Linked DNA regions of Homo sapiens: regions 1, 2, 4 and 5 are each linked to region 3. Evidence: fine-mapped expression QTL. A gene starts in region 3. Each other region holds a variant in brackets. All regions are shown on one strand. Distances are between the middles of the regions. Region 1 has its middle 51 kb from the start of ATF7IP2. Region 2 has its middle 24 kb from the start of ATF7IP2. Region 3 holds the start of ATF7IP2 (activating transcription factor 7 interacting protein 2). Region 4 overlaps ATF7IP2 (activating transcription factor 7 interacting protein 2). Region 5 has its middle 80 kb from the start of GRIN2A.

Region 1 (5,106 bases), 50 kb after region 3:
GATTACAGGTGTGTGCCACTACACCCAGCTAATTTTTGTATTTTTAGTGGAGATGGGGTTTCGCCATGTTGGCCAGGCTGGCCTTGAACTCCTGACCTCAGGTGATTCACCCACCTCAGCCTCCCAAATTGCTGGGATTACAGGCGTGAGCCACCGCGCCCGGCCTGCAAGCTACTTCTTTTGTTGGCTCCTGTATTGCATACATATAAGCCGTTTTTCTCGTGTTAATCTAGCTTTCTTCACCTTAATTCGCAGTCCGCCACACCCCCCACCACCCAAAAGAACCTAAAAGGGTAGAGGAAAAGTTTTTCCTCCTCCACACCATAAATAGTCACAAGTCAGGCTTTGCTACCAAATGAGTTCACTGGGGAAAAAAATCAATTTAGTTTTAAAACTATTTTGGATGTGAATTTTGGAAGTGCACTTAAGAGGAAGTGCACTTAAAGAACTTGGGTCAGGTGCAGTGGCTCACACCTGTAATCCCAGCCCTTTGGGAGGCTGAGGTGGGCGGATCACTTGAGGTCAGGAGTTTGAGACCAGCGTGGCCAATGCGGTGAAACCCCATCTCTACCAAAAATATAAAAAGTTAGCTGGGTGTGGTGGTGCATGCCTGTAATCCCAGCTACTGGGGAGGCCGAGGCAGGAGAATCACTGGGACCCAGGAGGCAGAGGTTGCAGTGAGCCTAGATCATGCCACTGCACTCTGGCCCAGATGACAGAACAAGACTCTGCCTCAAAAAAAAAAAAAAAAAGTGCTGGGCGCAGTGGCTCATGCTTGTAATCCCAGCACTTTGTGAGGCTGAGGCGGGCGGATCACGAGGTCAGGAGATCGAGACCACGGTGAAACCCTGTCTCTACTAAAAATACACACAAAAAAATAAGATTAGCCAGGCGTGGTGGAGGGCGCCTGTAGTCCCAGCTACTTGGAGAGGCTGAGGCAGGAGGATGGCGTGAACCCAGGAGGCGGAGGTTGCAGCGAGCCAAGATCGCGCCACTGCACTCCACCCTGGGTGACAGAGAGAGATGCCATCTCAAAAAAAAAAAAAAAAAAAAAAAAAGAATAGCAAGGGTGGAGGGTTGGCTGTGGGTGGGGAAGTTTTGAAAAATGTTACCGGAATATACTTACCCATTGCTACTGTGAATATATAAAGACGTATGGCATATAAGATCTTCTGGTGCCAGGCATGGTGGCTCACACTTCTAATCTCAGCACTTTGTGAGGTTAGCTTGAGCCCAGGAGTTTGAGACCAGCCTGAACAACATGGCAAAATCTTGTGTCTATGAAAACTACAAAAATTCGCAGGACCTGGTGGCGCTCACCTGTAGTCCCGGCTACTCAGGAGGCTAAGGTGGAAGAATCACTTGAGCCTGGGAGGTCAAGGCTGCAGGGAACCCTGATCATGCCACTGCACTGCAGCCTGGGAGACAAAGTGAGACCCTGTCTCAAAAAAAAAAAAAAAAAAAAAAAGATGTTCTTGCAGTTTTCTTATGATTTGCTCTACGGTGTGATTAATAACAGTTGCTGTTGCAATAATTCCTGCTATATTTTGACACAGTGCTGTGAAAAGAAATCCAACATGGAGGCCAGGCGTGGTGGCTCACGCCTGCAATCCCAGCACTTTGGGAGGCCGAGGTGGGCGGATCACCTGAGGTCGGGAGCTCGAGACCAGCCTGGCCAACATGGAGAAACCCTGTCTCTATTAAAAATACAAAATTAGCTGGGCATTGTGGCACATGCCTGTAATCCCAGCTACTAAGGAGGCTGAGGCAGGAGAATCGCTTGAACCTAGGAGGCGGAGGTTGCGGTGAGCCGAGATTGCGCCATTGCACTCCAGTCTGGGAAACGAGCAAAACTCCGTCTCAAAAAAAAAAAAAAAGAAAGAAAGCCAACGTGGAGATGATTTGTCGGAGGTCTCTGTCAAGGAGCCAGGAGGGCAAAAGTTGGCCCTCAGTCATATATGGATCCAGAGGGATCTGACCTGTTTGAACTGGGCCAGATCGCAAACGTTCTGGAGAAGCAGCTTCATTGGGTTTGAACTGCTCACACTGGGGCAGATCACGAACCTCCTGAAGACACAGCTGTGCTGAATTTTAAGCTGATCATGGCCTAGAGTCTTTCTAAGCTGTCAGCTGGCCTATAGGGGGAGGAAAAAACAAACAAATGAAAAAAACAAGAAGAAATGTTTTATTCAAGGAATACAGGCCCCTTTAAGCCATCAGGCCAAAGAGGCATTGAAATGAAACAGCAGTTAGGTTACTTCCCTTTGAATTAATAATCA[C/T]CTTATTTTTTATTTTTTTTTTTCAGAGACAGGGTCCGCCTCTGTGGCCCAGGCTGGACTGCAGTGGCACCGTCACAGCTCACTGCAGCCTCCCCCTCCTGGGCTCAAGTGATCCTCCCATCTCAGCCTCCTGAGTAGCTGGGACTGCAAGCACACACCAGCATGCATGGCTAATTTTTAAATTTTTTGTAGAGACAGGGTCTCACTGTGTTGTCTAGGCTGGTCTCAAACTCTTAGGCCCAAGCAATCCTCTGGCTTTCACCCCTGAGTAGCTGGGGCTACAGGTGTGCACCACCATGTCCGGCTAAATTTTTAAAAAGTTTTCAGCAGAGATATAGTCGCCCTATGTTGCCCAGGCTGGTCTCACACTCCTGGGCTCAAGTCATCCTCCCACTTCAACCTCCCAAAGTGCTGGGATTACAGGCTTGAGTCACTGCACCCAGCCAAATAATAATCACCTCTTGAAGCCACTTGCTGTGTGGCTTCTACACTTAACTAAGGCCACGTACCCCTAAAATACCAAATGCCCTACAGTTCACCAATATATAGCCAATCACTAGCCAATGTTATTTCTGTAAACCCATGAGAATTCCTAACAATGTTTGTAATCACCCTCTCTCCTCATTGGTTATTTTTTCTTTAAAAACTTCAGCCTCTCTAATGTCCTCTGGAGCACGCCCCACAGCAAGTTGGAAGTGTGTCCTGGACTGCTGCCCTCAACCTTGACCCAAATAAACTTTATATTAATATTGTCTCAGCTTCTCCCTTTGAGGTTGACAGGTCATGTGTCAATCACAGACTGTGCTACTGTCTTCCGCTTAGGTAAACTTGCAGTAAACCTTTAGAAACCCCTGCCTAGAGTCTTGCCTGGCTGAAACACGTTTTAGCTACTTGCTAGATTTGTTTCTCCCAAATTGCAATGCATAAAAACCCTGATTAAAATGCCTTCCTGGGCCAGGTGCAGTGACTCACGCCTGTAATTCCAGCACTTTGGGAGGCCAAGGATGGTGGATCACCTGAGGTCAGGAATGCCAGACCAGCCTGGCCAACATGGGGAAACCCCATCTCTACAAAAATACAAAAATTAGCCGGGCATGATGGCGGATGCCTGTAGTCCCAGCTACTCAGGAGGCTGAGGTGGGAGAATCATTTGAATCTGGGAGGTGGAGATTGCATGGAGCTGAGATCACTCCACTGCACTCCAGCCTGGGTGACAGATCGAGACTCTGTCTCAAAAATAAAATGGGCGGGGCACGGTGGCTCACGCTTGTCATCCCAGCACTTTGGGAAGCCGACATGGGCAGATCACAGGGTCAGGAGTTCGAGACCAGCCTGGCCAACATGGTGAAGCCCCGTCTCCACTAAAAATACAAAATGAGCCGGGTGTGGTGGCGCATGTCTGTAATCCAAGCTACTCGGGAGGCTGAGGCAGGAGAATCACTTGAACCCCTGGAGGCAGAGCTTTCAGTAAGCTGAGATCGTGCCACTGGACTCTACCCTGGATGACAAAGCGAGACTCTGTGTCAAAAAAATAAAAATAAAATAAAATAAAAGTCCCTCCCTTTGTTTGTGGCTCCCCAGTGTTGGTTGATAGTGCATGGATGAAATGTATAATGCCTCCTGAGTTCTCCTGCCCTTCAGGAAGGTTTTTTACACATATAGTGGCCTCAGATGCATTTCTTGATTTGGAGTTGAGGGTGGAATCTTGGCAGAATTGACAGAAGAGGCACCAGTGGGACAGAGGAGGGACAAGGGGAGCAACCTTTTTTTTGTTTAATAATGAGGGGGGAGGCGATGGCCTTCTCCTCCTTCCTCCCAGGGTGTCTCCTTAAAAACATAACAGGCCCCACAAAAAGTTGAAGGAGTGAAGAACGTGCCAACCCAAAATATGCTAGATTGGCATATTGATTATTTCGAGTTGAAAACATTGATGAAATTGTGGTTGGTATGTTTGCTTGTTTTATTTATTTTGAGATAGAGTCTCATTTTGTTGCCCAGGCTGGAGTGCAATGGCGCAATCACAGCTCACTGCAGCCTTCACCTCCTGGGCCCAAGCATTTGTCCTACTTCAGCTTCCTGAGTAGCTGGGTCTGTAGGTGTGCATCACCACACCCACTCAAGAGGAAATATACACTTTTTTTTTTTTTTGAGACGGAGTCTCTCTCTGTGTCACCCAGGCTGGAGGGCAGTGGTGCGATCTCGGCTCACTGCAACCTCCGCCTCCCGGGTTCAAGCGATTCTCCTACCTTAGCCTCCCAAGCAGCTGGGACTACAGGTATGCGCCATCACGCCCAGCTAATTTTTGTATTTTTAGTAGAGACGGGGTTTCACCATGTTGGCCAGGATGATCTCGATCTCTTGACCTTGTGATCTGCCCACCTCAGCCTCCCAAAGTGCTGGAATTACAGGCATGAGCCACCCCATCCGGCCCACATTTTATTAGTTTTACATGTACATGGGGATCTTCACAAGAAACAAAAAAATGATTCTTTTTTTTAGATGGAATCTTGCTCTATTGCCCAGGCTGGAGCGTAGTGGCGTGATCTCAGCTCACTGCAACTTCCGCCTCCTAGATTCAAGCAGTTCTCCTGTCTGAGCCTCCTGAGTAGCTGGGATTACAGGCACACACCACTACGTCCAGCTAATTTTTGTGTTTTTAGTACAGAAGGGGTTTCATCATGTTGGCCAGGCTGGTCTTGAAGTCCTGAGCCCAAGTGATGTGCCTGCCTTGGCCTCCCATAGTGCTGGGATTACAGGTGTCAGTCACCGTGCTCGGGCCCAAGAATGTGATTCTTCACGAGCAGGAAGATTGGTTGGGCCCAAGAGT
Region 2 (5,106 bases), 24 kb after region 3:
GTTGAAACTCTATCTTAAAAAAAAAAAAAAAAAAAAAAAAAAGGAATACAATCTCTAACAGATTAAATTGTTAAATTAGTCTTGTATAGAAAACTTTATAATCCTCAGACCAGGCTTGGTGGCTCACTCCTGTAATCCCAGCACTTTGGGAGGCTGAGACGGGCAGATCATGAGGTCAGGAGTTCGAGACCAGCCTGGCCAACATGGTGAAATCCCGTCTCTACTAAAAATACAAAAATTAGTCAGGCATGGTCATGGGCACCTGTAATCCCAGCTACTCCTTGAATCTGGGAGGTGAAGGTTGCAGTGAGCTGAGATCATGCTTTTGCACTCCAGCCTGGGCGACAAGAGCAAAAAACTCCATCTCAAAAAAAAATAAAAAGAAAAGAAAACATAATCCTGTTAATTTCCTTTGTTTTCTGTGTATGTGAGCAAGAACTTAGCTTTTAACTTGAGTACACTGATTCCATTTTCTCTAGTGCTCATGTCTCCAGACAAGAAAATGACTGCCCTCTTGGGTTTTAGACTTTCATGGGGCCTGCAGCCCTTTTATTTTGGCCAATTTCTCCCATTTGGAATGGGAACAATTAACGAATGCCTGTACCCCCATTGCATCTTGGAAATAACTAACTTGCTTTGTATTTTACAGGCTCCTAGGCAGAAGGGACTTGCCTTGTCTCTGATGAGACTTTGGAGTCACACTTTTGGGCTAATACTAGAATGAGGTAAGACTTTGGGGGACTGTTTCCTTTCCATGTTTTTTTTTTTTTTCCTCAAGATGTCGCCCAGGGTAGAGTGCAGTGGCGGGATCTCGGCTCACTGCAACCTCCACCTTCCGGGTTCAAGCAATTCTCCTGCCTCAGCCTCCTAAGTAGTTGGGATTACAGGGGCATGCTACCACGTTTGGCTAATTTTTATATTTTTAGTAGAGACGGGGTTTCACCATATTGGTCAAGCTTGTCTTGAACTCCTGACCTCAGGTGATCCACCCAGCTTGGCCTCCCAAAGTGCTGGGATTACAGGCATGAGCCACCATACTTGGCCTCCTTTCCAATTTAAAAGAGTATATTTAACATTCCATCTTAGACATTGTGATAGCTGTGAAGTCTTTGTGTGAGAAAGGTTTATTCAAGTGAAAAGCCATTCCCAGCTTTTCACTTGAATAAACTCTTTAAAACTGGATTTTAAGCCTTTCAATTATTTCAGGTTGACATAACTAAATAGAACAAGATTATATACTCTTAGAATGCATTCAGACTGTGAACTATAAAATTACTCCATTCTTGTTAAAGCTTTACTTTTGGGGAATTCACATCAATGGGTATCAGAGCTAGGCACAGTGATGTGGTTAAAAGAAAGGCGCCTCGGCTGGGCACAGTGGCTCATGACTGTAATCCCAGTACTTTGGGAGGCCGAGGTGGGCAGATCACCTGGGGTCAGAAGTTTGAGACCAGCCTGGCCAATGTAGTGAAACCCTGTCTCTACTAAAAATACAAAAATTAGTCAGGCATGGTGGTGGGAGCCTATAATACCAGCTACTCGAGAGGCTGAGGCAGGAGAATCGCTTAAACCTGGGGTGTGGGGCAGAGGTTGCAGTGAGCTGAGATCGAGCCATTGCACTCCAGTCTGGGTGACAGAGGGAGACTCTGTCCCAAAAAAAAAAAAAAACAAAAACAGAAAAAAGAAAATAAAAAAAAAGAAAGGTGCCTCACCACAGATGGTGTTGCAGACTATGTCTTTGATAACATAGTTTATGGAAATATTTACAGAGTGAAAATTACGCAAATGGGTAAAGGTACAATGTTCCTAGCTCCCTGGACTCCCCACATGACTGTGAGAGAGGAGACAGGGGCTGGTTAGGCAGATAAGAGGCGGAGGACCTCAGAAGAAAGATAATGCCTACAGGAATGCACCCGCAACCACCCCTGTTATACAGCTAGCAGA[T/C]GGAAATGTGGTTAAGAACTTCCTCTTTTACTAGAATTTTTGCTCAAAAGGATGTTTGTCCCGACTTAGACACAGGCACAATAAATCAACTAAATGTCCTTAACCTGACCCAAGCTCATTATAATATCATTAATATGACATCTGCAGTGCAGTTTTACCCCCCCTCAGTGGGCTTTTCTGTGGTGCTTATGGCTAATAACTAACATGGAGTAACTATAGAGAAGAACGCACCTGCGCACTAACAACTGGGACCAGGAAGCAGCCAGGAAGCAGAGGTTTGTGTACGATGCAAATGAGAAAAACACCCCTAGAAAGGAAGGATACAAGCCCCTGGGAAGGCTGGGCATGGTGGCTCACACCTGTAATTCCAGCACTTTGTGAGGCTGAGGCAGGCAGATTGCTTGAGGTCGGGAGTTCGAGACCAGCCTGGCCAACATGGTGAAATCCCGTCTCTATCAAAAATACAAAAATTAGCCAGGCGTGGTGGTGCATGTCTGTAATCACAGCTACTTGGGAGGCTGAGGCAGGATAATCGCTTGAACCTGGGAGACGGAGGTTGCAATGAGCCGAGATCGTGACATTGCACTCCAGCCTGGGCAACAGAGCAAGACTCCATCTCAAAAAACAAAACAAAACAAAACAAAACACCCTGGGGCTGACCTTGTTGGTGGCAACCCACTTTCAGGACCCCTGTCTTTACTGAGAACTTTCTGTTGCTTAATAAAACTCTACTCTGTGCCAGGCATGGTGGCTCATGCCTGTAATCCCAGCAATTTGGGAGGCCAAGGCAGGTGGATCACCTGAAGTCAGTAGTTCGAGACCAGCCTGGCCAACATGGTGAAACCCTCTCTGTACTAAAAACACAAAAATTAGCTGGGCATGGTGGCAGGTGCCTGTAATCCCAGCTACTCAGAAGGCTGAAGCAGGAGAATCGTTTGAACTCGGGAAGCAGAGGTTGCAGTGAGCCGAGATCGTGTCATTGCACTCCAGCCTGGGTGACAAGAGTGAAACTGTCTCAAAAAACAAAAAAACAAAAAAACAAAAAAACTCTACTCTGCCTTACCTACCCTCCTGTGTCCAATAAGGAAACTGTGACAATTGTATCAGTACCAAACATAAGGCCCAAGTGGAGTGATGAGTCCAGCAGGAGAACACTGCTTTTCCCCCTTGTATTAGTCCATTCTCACACTGCTATGAATATACTACCTGAGACTGGGTAATTTATAAAGAAAGGAGGTTTAATTGACTTATAGTTCTGCATGTCTGGAAGGGTTTGGGAAATGTACAATCATGGCGGAAGGTGAAGGGGAAGCAAGGCACCTCTTACATGGTGTCAGGAAAGAGAGCGAGTGCAGGGGAAACTGCCACATTTTTTGTTTGTTTGTTTTGTTTGAGATGGAGTCTCGCTCTGTCACCCAGGCTGGAGTGCAGTGGTGCTATCTTGGTTCACTGCAACCTCCGCCCCCTAGGTTCAAAGGATTCTCCTGCCTCAGCTTCCCGAGTAGCTGGGACTACAGGCACGTGCCACCGTGCCCAGCTAATTTTTTGTATTTTTAGTAGAGACGGTGTTTCACCTTGTTAGCCAGGATGGTCTCGATCTCCTGATCTTGTGATCTGCCCACCTTAGCCTCCCAAAGTGCTGGGATTACAGGTGTGAGCCACTGCGCCTGGCCGAAACTGCCACTTTTAAAGCATCAGATCTCATGAGAATTCTCTATCATAAGAACGGCATGGGGGAAACCGTCCCCACAATCCAATCACCTCCCACCGGATCCCTCTCTTGACACGTGGGGATTACAATTTCAGAAGAGATTTGAGTGGGGACACAGAGGCAAACCATATCACCCCTCCAGATTTCGGAGAGATTTTGCATATTTATGGTCCCTCCCTGGAGGGAATAGACTTAGGTTATCTATCTGCCTGTTTACTATATGCTTGTTATCAGTCTCCCGTCTGCAGTGTGTTGATGGGAAACGTTGACATGACTTGATGCTCATCAGTCTAGTAGCCAGCACAAACAAACTCAGCATATTCCTGGCCATTTACTTGAAGGGATCAAAGGCTAGTCTCCAAGATGCTTACATCAGAAGTAGGCTCTGTATCTGAGGTCCGTTTCTGCTTAGATTATTTCAAATATTTTACTAAAGTGAGACTTTGCTTCGATATTTGTTTCCATCATATGAGTTCAAGTTTGAGTCATTCCAAAATTTTTTTCTTTTTTAATGAAGTCAACTTTATGGATGTAAAAATTACATAAAGCAAAAGGCACATATTTTAAGTGTACAATGAGTTTGGAGAAGTATAGACATTGTCATACCAAAGATGAACTTCCATCACCATCCCCACATTCCCTTATGCCCTTTGCAATCATCCCCCAACCACTGATCACCAACCCCATAAAACTCATCTTCTTTCAATTAAAATGTATTAGTTGCCTTGTTTTAGAATTTATTCTAAGTGGGATTATGCAGTACTGTATTTTAAAATTATTGTTCTTTTCTTCAGCATAACTTCTTTTCTTTTTTTTTTAAGAGTTGGGATCTCTGTCATCCAGAGCACAGTGGTGCAATCATAGCTCACTGCAGTCTCCAACTCTGGGGCTCAAGCGATTCTCCCTCAACCTCCCATGTAGCTGGGATTACAGGCACTCCCCACTGTGCCTGGCTTCTTTTTTACTTTTTGGTATCAAAAATACTTAGCTAAACCCAAAAAAGATACCAATTTTGGTCATGCAACAGCTCGATTTAGTTTGAATAATTCAGACATAAGCAACTATATTAGAAAAAGAGAGGGTAATTATTTTTCCCTTTTCAACTAACACAGAAAAGTCATTACCAAAAGAAAACATTGGATGGTGTGTTGACAACTAAACTTTCTAAAGGAAATTGAGAAAAGGAGAATAGGGAACCTCACATTCATCTACATCAGGAAAGCGCCTTTATCCAAATAACTCTTTCATACACTGAACTCATGATCTATTTACTCTTTTGAAAGCAAAAGCAATATGTATTTCCTAGCTTTCCATGCTGAAAAACCCAGGAAAAATGACCAACCTAATGGCTATGAACTCCCCCAGTGTTCAGTTAAAATGTTATTTCCCACTCCACGAAACCATGGCTTCCTGAAGAAATAGTTGATTGCAGGTCTCAGACAGAAAAGCAC
Region 3 (5,106 bases):
AAACTAGTCGGGCGCCTATAATCCCAGCTACTTGCAAGGCTGAGGCAGGAGAATCACTTGAACCCGGAGGGAGGAGGTTGCAGTGAGCCGAGATCGCGCCACTTCACTCCAGCCTGAGCCAAAGAGCGAATCTCTGCCTCACAAAGAAAAATAAATAAGTAAAATAAAATAAAATAAACGAGATAGATAAGTCACCGCAGTGTGTGTGTGTCCGGGTGGCGGGGGGAGGGGGGGGGAGTAAAATAGACTGACATAGAATGAGAGAATAAGATTTTTTGGTATTTTGTATCATCTCGCTCAACAATGAGAACTAATACTCTTGCGCATTTAAAGTTGTATTTTATTTTTAACTATCCAATATATTAAACTTTGATTACATCAAATGAAATAGATTGTGCACACTCACTATAAGAGAGCTATGATATATGCAGAAGCAAAGGTGCAGGGATCATGCAATAGTTTCGTACCAGATTTCAAGATACCAAGTAGCAAGGAAACACAATGGAATTGAAGGCTGAGGTGAAGTACAGGCATAAGGCAAGGAAAGCAGAACATTCAAGATGTACCTATATACACCAGTTCTTAAAACACGCAAATCATTTCCAATAAGGCACTGGCTCATGTATTTCTGTTGAGGCAGAAGTCAATCTTAGGATGTGGTCTGTACATATCTGCAGATAAGACTGAGAGTGAAGTAAATTTGATTAAGATCGGAGTCAACACTTCTACAAACGTATTGCAGAATAAACGAGCTAAGAAGAAAGGCATACTTCACAAAAGCTGAATTCAGTGTTATTAGTCCTTCATTCAGATGCTTCATTTTTGCATTTTCAATTGCTTTCCTGTGATATAACTTATCTTTATCTTGGTCTTCCCCATTTGTTTTGCAAATAGTTATGTCGCAGGTCATTTACTGGCTACAATAAATATGACAAAATCATAATAAAAACAGTATTAAGTCGCAATCTAGAATAACAATTTAAGTGAATATGACATAATTTTTCTAATGTGGACTATTCAGTACAACTGTCCTCTTCTTCCATACATATTAACCATATGCAAGTCTTCAGAACAGAAAAAGCCATTGTGTCGTAAAGGAAGGAACACGTGGTTAGAAACTTCATTTTCAACACAGAAACACGGAAAGGTAGAAAGTCCGTTTCCTTAAGTGCGGTAAGGTTTTAACAAAAATAAGGCAAAAAAAATTATTGCGTCCTCTCTTTCTCAAACTTGCTTGCCAAACTTGGAGAAAACTGGTTAGAGAAGGGCGATAAGATGGAATTTTCTTAAAAACATATTCATAAAAACGAACTTCTACCTTAAGGAAATCGTCTTCCTTAAATCCTACCATCCTTACACCGGCAAGCTCAGAGGTACGGGATTTCAGCATTTTACTCAGAATTTTGTATTTTTCCTGATGCTCTGGTCCCTACTTTTTAACAAACTTCAAGGCCGCCAGGCGAGATCCAGTTGCCTTCTGGCACCTGACTTCATTAGATGATTAAAACAACTCAAGAAAATTTGGCAATGGGACACTAAAATTGGTGGAGGTGGAGATTTATCCGTTAATTTCTGAAAGCATTCCGGACAAGAGCGAGCTTTTACTTACCCCTCAGGACAAAAAACACGCACCACTTCCCTCCGCAGTCCCTAACCCCAGTGCCGCCCGGACCTGAGGCCGCACACCACTCCCGCTTCACCAGTATCCCTCTGCGAAAACGGTGGAGACGCGCCCGTCCGCCCCTCAGGGGCCTCTTCCCGGACCTGTCAGACGGCCCCGCGGACGCTTTTCAGTCAGGGCAGCTTCGCCGCAAACGTCCGGTAGGCCCGGCGCTCCGAGGCCTCCGGGGCCGGCCCTCAGAGAGGCGACCGACGCTCCTAGAGCCGCCACCCCGCCAATCGCCGCTCTCGCAGGACACTCGCCCGGCCCCAACGTACCTAGAGCGACGACGCACCAGCCGCAGCAATACCCACAGCCACTTCGAACCGCAGCCGTTAACAATGCTGGTCCGGCCAGGACCTGCTGAAGTAGGTCTCCCTACGCCCACCCCCAGCTGATTATGGACCAATGGCAGCGCGAATATGCGGCAGCCCAGCCAGTCAGGCACAGCCAGCTAGAGTGGGCGGGGCGAAGGGTCGCGAGGGGAAATGGAAGTAGGCTGAGGGGCGCCTGGGGTTCGCCTCCGTGGGCGCTTCTTCCGGTCAGCCACCGGGGCTTACCCGCCATAGCGCAGATGCAGGCTCCTGAGCTGGGCCTTTCTTTTGAGTGACTCGTGTGAAGATTTAGACTTTCGAAACTTATTAGGAATAAGACCTTATTTACAAAAACAACTCCTCACCCGGTCGGTAGTTTCCGATTTGAATTTTCTAATATTGTTTGAAAATATTTATCTTATTTACTTTTTTGGACGACTCCTTAAATTTTGTGACTCAGGAGATTGGTCCTAGCACCGTAGTCTTTTTTTTTTTTTTTTTTTTTTGAGACGGAGTTTCGCTCTTGTCGCCCAGGCTGGAGTTCAGTGGCGTGATCTCAGCTCACTGTACCCCCATTTCCCACCTCCCAGGTTCAAGCGATTCTCCTGCCTTAGCCTCCCGAGTAGCTGGGACCACAGGTGTGCACCACCATGCCCGGCTAATTTTTGTACTTTTAATAGACATGGGGTTTCACTATGTTGGCCAGGCTGGTCTTGAACTCCTGGACCTCAGGTGATCCGCCACCTCTGCCTCCCCATATGTTGGGATTACAGGCATGAGCCACTGCACCCACCCGCACCATAGCCTTGAGTTTGCTAAATTGTCCCAGGAACCTGCCAGCCTTGGCTGCTTGTGATTTCATGAGGCCCGATGCCTTAGGTGGCTGTGCACTTGGATGCCATGAACTCACTCAACAGGTGGTCACTGAATGCCCACTGTGTAGAAAATACAGGAAATACAACAGTAGATTAGATCCATAATGCCCTCTTTTTCATTAATTAATTTATTTATTTATTTGACAGAGTTTTGCTCTTGTTGCCTAGGCTGGAGTGCAATGGCGCGATCTCGGCTCACCACAACCTCCGCCTCCCGGGTTCAAGCGCTTCTCCTACCTCTGCCCCCAACAAGTAGCTGGGATTATAGGCATGCGCCACAGTGCCTGGCTAAGTTTTTTTTTTATTTTTAGTAGAGACGGGGTTTCTCAATGTTGATCAGGCTGGTCATGAACTCCCGACCTCAGGTAATCCACCTGCTTCGGCCTCCCAAAGTGCTGGGATTACAGGCGTGAGCCACCACGCTTGTCATGAGGCTAGAGCTGCCTGCCTTGTCACTTCCAGTTAGGAGAAAAATGAGGCAAGTCCGGACAATCTAGGTTGGGTCATCAATGGAATAACATACTCCAACCAGCCAGTTCCCCAAATATGCTCCAGGGATCTAGGGGTAATCTTTAATGTCAATCCTATTTTTATAATTATACTATTTTTATAATAATATAAAGATGATTTTGCTTTTTTCATTCTCTGAGTCAGGAGAGTACATGGAATTTTCTAGAAGCCTCTGGAAAATCGACGGGTGATATTGCTACAGATTGAATACAGAAGCAGACATGAGAATCTAACTACCAACCTGGGCAACAAAGTGAGATACCCACTTTTCTAGAAAAGTAAAAATAAAAAGTTAGCTGCATCCTTCCACCTACACGGGAGGCTGAGAGGACGGGAGGATCGCTTAAGCTTAGGAGTTAGGGACTGCAGTGAGCTGTGATAGTGTCACTGCACTCCACCCTGGGTGATAGAGCAAGAGACTGTCTTAGAAAAGAGAGAGAGAGAGGCCAAGCGCAGTGGCTCACATCTGTAATCCCAGCACTTTGGGAGGCTGAGGCAGCCGGATCATGAGGTCAATAGTTCGAGACCAGCCTGGCCAACATAGTGAAACCCCATCTCTACTAAAAATACAAAAATTAGCCGGGCATGGTGGCGCGTGCCTGTAATCCCAGCTACTCGGGAGGCTGAAGCAGGAGAATCGACTGAACCCGAGAGGTGGAGTTTGTGGTAAGCCAAGATCGCACTACTGCACCCCAGCATGGGCAACAGAGTGAGACTCCGTCTCAAAAACCAAAAAAAAAAAAAAAAGAGAGAGAGAGTCTTACTGTATTAAGTCAGACGTTAAGGAAATTAGCAAAAATGTAAAACAATCCTAATCTTTGCACATTTTTTGTTGTTCTAGAACATGATTTTGAAAATAATTATAGGGTTGCTAAGAGAGATAGTGTGGGAGGGAGTGGGAGGTAGTAAGTTGCAGTCAGATAAGGAATTTGGACTTAATTCAGTTAACAGTGAGTAACTAGCCTTTAGAAATGTTATGTCTATTTAAGGTACTAGGATATCTTGTATGTCATTTTAACAATAGTAATATAATAGGCCAGGTGGACACCTGTAATCCTAGCATTTTAGGATGCCAAGACCGACAGATAGCTTGAGCCCAGGAGTTTGAGACCAGCCTGGGCAATATAGCGAGACCCCATCTCTATAAAAAAATTATAATAATTGATATTTACTGGACATTATGTTAATAAAGTTTATTGTTGGCTGGGTGCGGTGGCTCATGCCTGTAATCCCAGCACTTTGGGAGGCCAAGGTGGGCAGATCACTTGAGATCAAGACCATCCTGGCCAACATGGTGAAACCCTGTCTCTACTAAAAATACAAAAATTAGCTGGGCATGATGGTGCGCACCTGTAGTCCCAGCTACTTGGGAGACTGAGGTAGGAGAATTGCTTGAACCTGAAAGAAGGAGGTTGCAATGAGTCAAGATCACGCCACTGCACTCCAGCCTGGTGACAGAGCGAGACTCCATCTCAATAAATAAATAAATAAATTCATTCACATAATGTGCTATATGAAGTACTATGAAGTCTCTCAATTTGCTGTTTGACTTTTTAAAATAATGCTTAACATAATAACAGATACAGTTGCTTGTACATTTCCTGACTTATAGTAGACACTTGATGTATAGTAACTATTATTATTAAAATTAATAAAGCTGAGAATATCAATTATCTTGAGTAAATTCTTTACATTTTTGTGTTGGAATGCTTTCTTGTTTGATAGTTTTCTTCCATTGAGGATTGTG
Region 4 (5,106 bases), 85 kb before region 3:
GAGAGAGAGAAAAGTTATCATTGGAAATGTAAGGTTAAAATTTTTTTTTTTTTTTTTTTGAGACGGAGTCTTGCTGTTTTGCCCAGGCTGGAGTGCAGTAGCACGATCTCAGCTCACTGCAGTCTCTGCCTCCAAGGTTCAAGCAATTCTCCTGCCTCACCCTCCAGAGTAGCTGGGATTACAGGCACCTGCCACCATGCCTGGCTAATTTTTGTATTTTTAATACAGATGGGGTTTCATTTTGTTGGCCAGGCTGGTCTTGAACTCCTGACCTCAGGTGATCTGCCTGCCTCAGCCTCCCAAAGTGCTTGGATTACAGGTGTGAGCCACCACACCCAGACTGACTAGACAAATTTTAAATCTTAAGTAGACTATAAGATAACTTAATAGATAAAAAATAAGAAGACAAAAAACAAACCGTCACTACCATCAAAAAAAGGCCAGGGCAAACCATTAAAAATAAGTAGTTTTTACAAGTTATAAAGTCATTAAACACATAAAAGAAACAAAAGGCCCTAAACTGATAAAACACAAGGTTAAAATGAAATCTCAATTACATTAAGGAATCATTTATTTAGGTAATATTAACCATGATATAAATTAGAACATTTGAGAGTACATTTAACTTTTTCATTTTATTAAAAGATATTATTCAATTTTTCACTTTAAAGCAAACATTGATTTAAGGCCTTCTAACTTGATAGATCATATTCTAATCAGCTATAAGATACCTGTTGGATTTGATGTAATTGGAGTTGTCAAATTAGGACTTTCCACAGAAATCAACATAACATCATCATTGTTACTAAAATGATAAAAAGAAATTAAAAACAAAAACTAAACATGCATTATCAGGCTTAAACATGCAATTAGTGGTTAGGAGTCCTCTAACTTAACATTTCATAATGTTTTAATTGAACAATCGTGGGGGGAAATAGAAATGATAAAACCAAATACCCAAAAAAACTCCATTTATTACCAGTTCCGTTATATGACTAAAGATTCATCAAAATCCAATAATTAGATCCCTACTACATTTTATGGGTCTTTCACAATGACTCAAAATATATATAAGTATACAATGGACATAAATGTATAAAACATACAAATTCCTTTGAGCGTATATACTTACTTCTATAAAAATGAAACATCATGTAATGAAGGAAATCTATTAAGACCCATAAAGACACCTGGACTCCTAAAGGTAGAAAACTATAACAAAGAAAATTATTTTAAAAAGAACTGCTACTACTCTTCATTTTATCTCTCCAGTAGCAATATTTACCACAAATTTGAGACAATGATGATAAATGATGCTGATTACGGTTATAGAATATTTCAAGCCATTTTGACCCTTTTTTTTTATGAGCGACTTTTTTGTTTTTTGAGATGGAGTTTTGCTCTTGTCCCCCAGGCTGAAGTGCAGTGGCGCAATCTTGGCTCACCGAAACCTCTGTCTCCCAGGTTCAAGCGATTCTCCTGCCTCAGCCTCTTCAGTAGCTGGGATTACAAGCATATGCCACCATGCCCGGCTAATTTTTCTATTTTTAGTAGAGACAGGGTTTCACCATGTTGGTCAGGCTGGTCTTGAACTCCTGACCTCAGGTGATCCGCCCACCTTGGCCTCCCAAAGTGCTGGGATTACAGGTGTGAGCCACTGCGCCCAGTCCAATTATACCATTTTCTTGCAGACATCTTCTGTTTTTACTGTTTGTACTTAGGTGTATGATCCATTTTGAGTTAATTTTTGTTTATGGTATGAAGTAAGAGCTGAGGTTCACTTTTCCCTCTATTCCAGCAACATTTTTGAAAAGAACATCTTTTCCTGTTAAACTACATCGGTACCTTTGTTGTAAACCAATGAACTACATGTGCAGTCTCTAGTGTGTCCACTGGTCAACATACCTATCCCTATGCCAACACCACTGTCTTAATACTACACCTTTATAGTTAAGTCTTGAACAAAGATAGTGTAGTCTTCTAACTTTCTTTCCCAACATTGTTTTCATCTTCTGGGTCTCTGCATTTTCATATATATATTCACACACACACACACACACATATATATACACACACATATATATATATATACACACACACATATATATATATACATATATATATATTTTTAAGAGACAGACTCGTGCTCTGTCTCCCAGGCTGGAGTGTAGTGGTGCAAATGTATCTTGCTGAAGCCTGAACCTCTGGGCTCAAAAGATCCTCTCATCTCGGCCTCCTAAGTAGCTGGGATGACAGCATGTGTCACCAGGCCTGGCTAACTTTTT[A/T]AAAAAATTTTTTTAAAAATGTTTTTTTATGTTGGCCAGGCTGGTCTTGAACTCCTGACCTCAAGTGATCCTCCTGCCCTGGCCTCCCAAGATGCTGGGATTATAAGTGTAAGCCATCATGCCTGGCCTTAAGTTTTTAATCAGTTTGTTACTTACTACAAAAACGGCTGAGGCATTGATAGATATACAATTTGGGGTGAAGTAACATCTTAATGAATTCATGAAAGTTACATATCTCACCACTTATTTAGGTCTCCTTTAATTTCTTCAGTAATACTTTGTAGTTTTAGGTTAGGTGGTTTTGGTTTATCCCTAAATATATTATGTTCTCTGAAGTCATTGTAAATGGCATCCATTTTAAATTTCAAATTCCAATTGTTTCTTGCTTGTGTGTGTGTATATATATAATTTCTAAACTATATATTCTACATATATATAGGATGTAGTGTTTCTATATAGAGTGTGTTGTGTGTATACACTATAAAGAAACAAAAATATTTTCTATTTGCCAACATATTTACAATGTCTGTCAGTCTATATTACTTTGTACAGATCCAAATTTCTATTTAATACTATTTTCCTTTTGCCTGAAAAATCTCCTCCAAAATTTCTTGTAATGTAGGTCTGTTGATGTATTCTCTCCCTTTTTTTTGGCTTAAAAAGTCTGTTTTTCCCCTACACTTTGGAAACATATTTTCACTGCATATAGAATTCTGAATGGACTTTTTTTTTTTTTTAAACTTTCAATACTTTAGAAGTATCTATGATCTCAATTTTAGAGATGTCTTCTAGTTTGCACAGCTTACAGCAAGAAGTATGGTGCCATTCTTACTTTTTGTTCCTTTTTTGTTTTTTGAGACGGTGTTTTGCTCGTTTCCCAGGCTGGAGTGCAGTGGCATGATCTCGGCTCACCGCAACCTCTGCCTCCTTGGTTCAAAGTGATTCTCCTGCCTCAGCCTCCCGAGTAGCTGGGATTACAGGCATGCGCCACAATGCTGGGCTAATTTTATATTTTTAGTAGAGACGGGGTTTTCTCCATGTTGGTCAGACTTTCTGTTCCTTTCTATGTGATGTGTCTTTTGTGTGGCTACTTTTTAAAATTTTCCCTTCCTCACTGACTTTCAGCAATCTGATGATGTGGTTTTGTATGCTTTCATGTTTCTTCTGCTTGAATTTAACATTTTTTCATTTATGGATTTAGAATTTGCATCAACTATGGAAAATTTTCAGACACTGTATCTTCAAACATTTGCTCAGCTCCTGCCTTAGTGATACTCCAATAATGTGTATTAGACTGCCTGATACTGTTCCATAGGTCTCTGATGCTCTGTTCATTGTTTTTTCAGTCTTTTTCCTCTCCATGCTTTAGACTGAACATTTTCTATACCTCTTTCACTGATATATTGGCAATAGCTCTTTTAGGTCGTCTGCTAAGTCCAAATTATTTCTAGGTAGATCACTTCATTCTTCTCCTTGTTGATAGGTCATATTTTTTGCTATGTTGCATGCCTGGGAATTTCTTATTAGATGTCAGATATTGTAAAATTTATGCTGTTGGGTAATGGATGTTGTTTCATTTCTTCAGAAGAGTGTTAGACTTTGTTCTGGCATGCAATTAAATTACTTAGGATTAGCCTGATTCCTTTGAAGCTTGCTTTTGGCTTTTCTGTGTATAGATTCTTTGCAGTCTCTGGGACTAATTGAGCCCCACTAAAGCAATAACCATCTGTGGACCCTACCTGTTACTTCTGATTATAAATTTTCTTCATTTTAGCCAAGGGGAAAGCAAAATGTTACCAATCTTTCTTCTAGCCAGGGGGAAAACAAGATGTATGACTTCTAGGAATCAATCACTTGGCCTTCTTTCCAATAGTTCTTTCCCCAGTCTCTCGTAGTTTCATCCTTTGCATACAGATCTGTATTCAGCCAATATTTCAAGGCCCCTTTGCAGATCTTCAGAGCTCTATCTGAATTTTTTTCTCTTCACTGTTCCACTTCATAAATTCTGGTCAACTCAGATTCTCCAATCTCTGACCTAAACTCAGCAAGACCACAAGGCTCTGTTTGGAATCCCTCCTCCATCCCTGCTCTTGACCTGGAAAATGCCTCCAGGCAGGAAGCTGGGACAATGGTAGAGTTCATGTCATTTGTTTTCCCAATCATGATCCTAAACTCCTGGTAGAACAATATCTGAAAATAATTTTTCAGCCTGATTTGCCTTGTTTATAGCAAAATGTCAGTTCCTGTAGCTGTTGACTGCATGGGGAGAGGCAAAAATCATGTTCATTTTTCAGTTTATGCTCAACAGTTTTCCATGCAGATTTAAAAAAACACAAATTCAACAATTTTTTAAATATCACATTTCTCAATGGGACTCTAACATTTGCCATTATTTCTAAGAAACAAAAACAAATATTTAAATCTAAATTTTATTAAGAATATTTGATTTGGGCCAGGCACGGTGGCTCATGCCTGTAATCCCAGCACTTTGGGAGGTGGAGGTGGGAGGATCACCTGAGGTCGGGAGTTCGAGACCAGCCTGACCAACATGGAGAAACCCCGTCTCTACTAAAAAATACAAAATTAGTCGGGCATGGTGGCACGTGCCTTTAATCCCAGCTACTCGGGAGGCTGAGGCAGGAGAAACGCTTAAACTCGGAAGGCAGAGGTTGTGGTAAGCCAAGATCATGACATTGCACTCTAGCCTGGACAACAAGAGCAAAACTCTGTCTCAAAAAAAAAAAAAAAAAAGAATATTTGATTTTTGGCTGATTTTTGGCTGGGCGCCATGGCTCACACCTGTAATCCCAGCACTTTGTGG
Region 5 (5,106 bases), 120 kb after region 3:
GCTGCTATATTTGTTTCCTGAAGCTGCCGTAACACGGTACCAGGCACTGGGAGGTTTAAACAACAGAAATTTATTCCGTCACAGTTCTGGAGGCCAGAAGTCTGAGATCGAAGTTAGGAATGACTGCACTCTCCCGTGAGGCTCTAGGGGAGAATGTCTCCTTGCCTCTCCCAGCTTCTGGTGGCCCCAGCACTCCTCGGGGTTCCTCCATTTGTAGATGGGTCAGTCCCATCTGGGCCTCCGCCTGCACATGGGCTTCTCCTCCCATGTCTGTCTGTGTCCAAATTACCCTCACATATGTATATGGTTTTTTTTCATATTTATTTATTTATTTTTTCAGACAGGGTCTTGTTCTTTTGCCCAGGCTGGAGTGCAGGGGTGCTATCATGGCTCACTGCAGCCTCAACCTCACAGGCTCAAGCTATCCTCCCACCTCAGCCTCCCAAGTAGCTGGGACCACAGGTACATGCCACCACACCCAGCTAATTTTTTAATTTTTTGTAGAGACAGGGTTTTACCATGTTGCCCAGGCTGGCCTCGAACTGTTGGGCTCAAGTGGTCCTCCCACCTCAGCCTCCCAAAGTGCTGAGATTACAGGCATGAGCCACCGCACCCGGCCTCCTCCTTTTATAAAGGGATTCATCAGTCAGTGAATTTAAGGCCCACCGAATCCCGTATAACCTCATCTTACCTTGATTATATCTATAAAGACTTTATTTTCCAATAAGGTCACTGGGGGTTAGGACTTGAGCATATCTTTTTGGGGGACACAATTCTACCCATTCCAAATGTTAATTCGTTTATTTAATTTATCTTTTAAAAATCTTTTTTCCTGCCCCACTAGGATATAAGCTCCATGGAGGCCAACTTGGTCCTTTTTCCCTGGTCTAGCTCCAGTGTCAAGGGCAGTGTTTGAGACAAAAAAGTTGTTCAAAACCAGTTCATTGTGCCAGGCACAGTGGTTCACGCCTGTAATCCCAACACTTTGGGAGGCTGAGGCGGGTGGATCACGAGGTCAGGAGCTTGAGACCAGCCTGACCAACATGGTGAAACCCCATGTCTTCTAAAAATACAAAAATTAGCCTGGCGTGGTGGCGCACACCTGTAGTCCCAGCTACTCAGGAGGCTGAGGCAGGAGAATTGCTTGAACCCAGGAGGCAGAGGTTGCAGTAAGCTGAGATTGCGCCACTGCACTCTAGCCTGGGCGACGGAGCGAGACTCCGTGTCAGAAAAGAAAAAAACAAAAAAAGAATTTTAAACTCTGACTCAAATATCGAGATGAACGTTCTGGCATCGACACATGTCCAGCACTACTCTCACCTCCACAGTTTGGGACGAGTGCCCTAGAAAACAGCAGTGACCTTGTAAAAACCCTGGAAGAAAAGCTTCACCTAGGGAGTGTCACAAAGTTTCAGCCAGAACAAAAAATAGCTTGTAGCAGTCAATGCATTATTATTAGCCTTTCATGAGCAAGCATTGGTCACAGAGATTTTGTGTTTGAAAATGGCAAAATGTGCCTGTATCCAAAAGAAATGAAACCTGCAGAGAGGTTTTATGTCTGCACTTGATCAGTATTAATATGGAAAAAATAATAAACTTCTTTTTACATGTCACATTCTGGTTGACTGCAGGGATCCCAGAAACATTGCTATTAACACAATTCTTACAAGTGTTGGCCTCTCCACTGAGCCCCACCCATAGTGAAGTGCCATTATCTGCTCTTTTCTTCTCCTGAGATTCTTCACATTACGGCTCAAAGCGCTGATCTGCCAATCTCATCAACAGGCTGGATGCAGTTCAGAACAGAGGAAGTAGCTATTTAATTGGTCACAGTTCTCAACTAGCACCACTCAAGTTTAATAACATTTATACTATCTCCAGTTCTTTTTTTAAAATTAAAATGAATTTTTTTTTGAGACAGAGTCTTGCTGTGTTGTTCAGGCTGGAATGCAGTGGCACGATCTCAGCTCACTACAGCATCTGTCTCCTGGGCTCAAGCCGTCCTCCCATCTCAGCCTCCCAAATAGCTGGGACTACAGGCATGCACCACCATACCAAGGTAATTTTTGTATTTTTGGTAGAGACAGGGTTTCGGCATGTTGCCCATGCTGGTCTTGAACTCCTGAGATCAAGCAGTCCTCCTGCTTTGGCCTCCCGAAGTACTGGGATTACAAGAATGAGCCATGGCCTCCGGCCTCCAGTTCTTGTGAGGACATTGGAATATAACTGTTTTTTTGTTTGTTTTTCCTTCTGGGGCTTGGGGGATTTCTCTGGTGAAACCACCTTGAAATACAGAAGGCAGCAGAACCTGGAGATTTTGAAAACAGACGTGGTTCAGAACCCTCTTCATGTCCTTTACTAGGTGTGTGACCTTGGGCAAGACACTGAACCACTATGAACCTCAGTCTCCTCATTTGTAAAATGAGAACTAATATTTGCTTGTCAGTTTAAGCTAGGGATTAAATGAGATATTATAAGTGAAGTTCCTAGTCTAGTGTTTGTAAAGGGATCAAGCCATTTTTTATTTTTGATTTAGGGGTGGGCCTGGAGGAAGTGAGGGTGAGGATATTACTGCTTTGAATGTTGTTTGGAATCGATTCATTAGAATTATGCAAGTTGAGCTGGCATTGCAGTTTACTCTTTGTTTTAAACCTCTTCAGCAAATACAAGGAGCATGAAAAAAGGCAGTAAGAGGTATATTTGGAATAATA[C/T]GGAATTGCAAAATGGTAGCTATTTCTTGCCTTTCATGTCGTTTAGTGTCCCAGGGTCTGGGACTTAAGTGCCTCAGGAAGGACTCTAATGTGTCTTGGGTGTAGATACTTTCTCCCTCCATACCTCCTATACTTCTACCAGATAATTCACTTTATGTTTTTACTTTTTATTTATTTATTTTTGAGACTGAGTCTCACTCTGTCGCCCAGGCTGGAGTGCAGTGGTGCGATCTCGGCTCACAGCAACTTCCACCTTTTTGGTTCAAGCAATTTTCCTACCTGAGCCTCTCAAGTAGCCAGGACTACAGGTGCATGCCACCATGCCTGGCTAATTTTTGTATTAACTACAGGCATGAGCCACCATGACTGGCCTCGTGATAATTAACTTTAGTATTAAAGTTATAAATGGATAACCAAAGTGCATATTAAAACTTCTTAAAAGTAGCATTGGTGATTACTGCAAATTATTGACGCTGTGGAGTGTAGCGTTAATGTGATACCCTACCTTGTTTTAGCCTGATTGACTGTCACTTAGCTGAGAGAGCCAGACAGACTCCGTTTTCGTTTCTTCACTTGCAGCCCCTTATCCTCCTCCCTTAAGGACATAACTGGTACAAGCTGACTCCAAGCACATCCAGGCATCCAGGAATGCACTTACTGATAAGATACTGAGGCAAGCTGTACCAGCAGCTCCTGGGAACTCGCTCGGTTGATGGTACCCAAAGCCCCTGCATTTATCTCTTTGTGATAGTTTAAGCCCCTGCACCTGGAACTGTTTATTTTTCTGTAACTGTTTCTGTAACCATTTATCTTTTAACTTTTTGCCTGTTCTGCTTCTGTGAAATTGCTTCAGCTAGGCTCCCCCTCCCCTTTTTAAACCAAGATATAAAAGGAAATCTAGCCCCTTCTTCGAGGCCGACAGAGTTTTTGAGCTCTAGCCGTCTCTCGGTCGCCGGCAGTAAAGGACTCCTGAATTAGTCTCAGAGTGTGGCGTTTCTCTATAACTCACTCGGTTACGACATTAAGACTATGATCCAATGCCAGCTCCCACCCTTACTGGCTGTGTGTCAAGGGTCCAGTCACTCTACCTCTCTGAGCTGCAATGTGCTCATCTGTAAGACAGGAATCATAATAAGATCCACCCCCTAATTAGATGAGTTTGCATGTGAGAAGTACCTAGAAGAGTATCTGACATGGAATGGGCACGTTGCAAATGTAAGCCCTCATTTTGGCTAAGGCTTTTCCCATTGCTATCGAAAAGTCTTTTGTGCCTCTTGAGTATGTTTTTCCACGATCACTTATTTTGCTTACTGTTCATCTGGATGGAAATTTTAGACGCAAACAAGGGGGGCAGTAGTCTAAACACATCCCTCAAAAATCAGAAACTGGAACTGAGTTTGCAATAGGCAATTTTCTTGACTTTTGCCATAAGCACCATCGGATAGAATCGTTACGGAATAGAATCATGACTTGAGAGAAATTTAATCTTTTGGGGTGTGGGAGCTACAACCTTAGACATTTCTTTGGATGTGAGGAGTGAGATTGATACCACGGTCAGGTCCCTGAGCCCAAGCTAAGCCATCGTATCCCCTGTGACCTGCACGTATATATCCAGATGGCCTGAAGCAACTGAAGAGCCACAAAAGAAGTGAAAATAGCCTTAACTGATGACATTCCACCATTGTGATTTGTTCCTGCCCCACCCTAACTGATACACATATTCTCCCCCGCCCTTAAGAAGGTACTTTGTAATATTCTCCCCGCCCTTAAGAATATACTTTGTACGCCTATCCTAAACCTAAAGAACTAGTTATAATCCCACCAGCCTTTGCTGACTCCATTTTGGACTCAGCCCACCTGCACCCAGGTGAAATAAACAGCCTTGTTGCTCACACAAAGCCTGTTTGATGGACTCTCTTCACACGGACGCGTGTGACAGTCACCTCTATGGAGGATGTTTGCTTCACCGCTTTACTGCACACAAAATGGCACCAGAGATTGCTATATTTCTTTTTAAAAAATAGAGTCTACTTGGTCAAGAATGCTTTTGCTTTTTCATCTCTTAGGGCTCATTTTGGAGCTGAATTAAATGTTTTAAATGAGGTCAGGCATGGTGGCTCACGCCTGCAATCCTAGCACTTTGGGAGGCTGAGGAGGGCAGATCACTTGAGGTCAGGAGTTCAAGACCAGCCTGGCCAACATGGTGAAACCTTGTCTCTACTAAAAATACAAAAATTAGCCAGGCGTGTTGGCATATGCCTGTAATCCCAGCTACCGGGAAGGCTGAGGCAAGAGAATTGCTTGAACCTGGGAGGCAGGGGTTGCAGTGGGCCAAGATCGAGCCACTGCACTCCACCCTGGGCAACAGAGCAAGACTCTGATTTAAAAAAAAAAT

Evidence for each region. PIP is the estimated chance that this variant, and not a neighbour inherited with it, causes the effect.
Region 1: its variant is fine-mapped to the expression of ATF7IP2 in whole blood (TOPMed, PIP above 0.99).
Region 2: its variant is fine-mapped to the expression of ATF7IP2 in whole blood (TOPMed, PIP above 0.99).
Region 4: its variant is fine-mapped to the expression of ATF7IP2 in whole blood (TOPMed, PIP 0.96).
Region 5: its variant is fine-mapped to the expression of ATF7IP2 in thyroid (GTEx, PIP above 0.99).

What each region holds. Positions count from the first base shown.
Region 1 is chr16:10,332,740-10,337,845 of GRCh38, reverse strand. No RefSeq gene overlaps it. Among named protein-coding and RNA genes, the nearest start is that of ATF7IP2, 51 kb to the left of the region's middle. The variant C/T (reference allele first, on the strand shown) is at 2,280.
Region 2 is chr16:10,359,300-10,364,405 of GRCh38, reverse strand. No RefSeq gene overlaps it. Among named protein-coding and RNA genes, the nearest start is that of ATF7IP2, 24 kb to the left of the region's middle. The variant T/C (reference allele first, on the strand shown) is at 1,945.
Region 3 is chr16:10,382,955-10,388,060 of GRCh38, reverse strand. ATF7IP2 (activating transcription factor 7 interacting protein 2) reads right to left here and starts at 2,000. Exons shown (of 14, transcript NM_001393719.1): 1 at 1,939-2,000. RefSeq lists a silencer at 2,122-2,261.
Region 4 is chr16:10,467,809-10,472,914 of GRCh38, reverse strand. It overlaps ATF7IP2 (activating transcription factor 7 interacting protein 2), which reads right to left. Exons shown (of 14, transcript NM_001393719.1): 10 at 732-805. Among named protein-coding and RNA genes, the nearest start is that of LINC01290, 58 kb to the left of the region's middle. The variant A/T (reference allele first, on the strand shown) is at 2,286.
Region 5 is chr16:10,259,965-10,265,070 of GRCh38, reverse strand. No RefSeq gene overlaps it. Among named protein-coding and RNA genes, the nearest start is that of GRIN2A, 80 kb to the right of the region's middle. The variant C/T (reference allele first, on the strand shown) is at 2,712.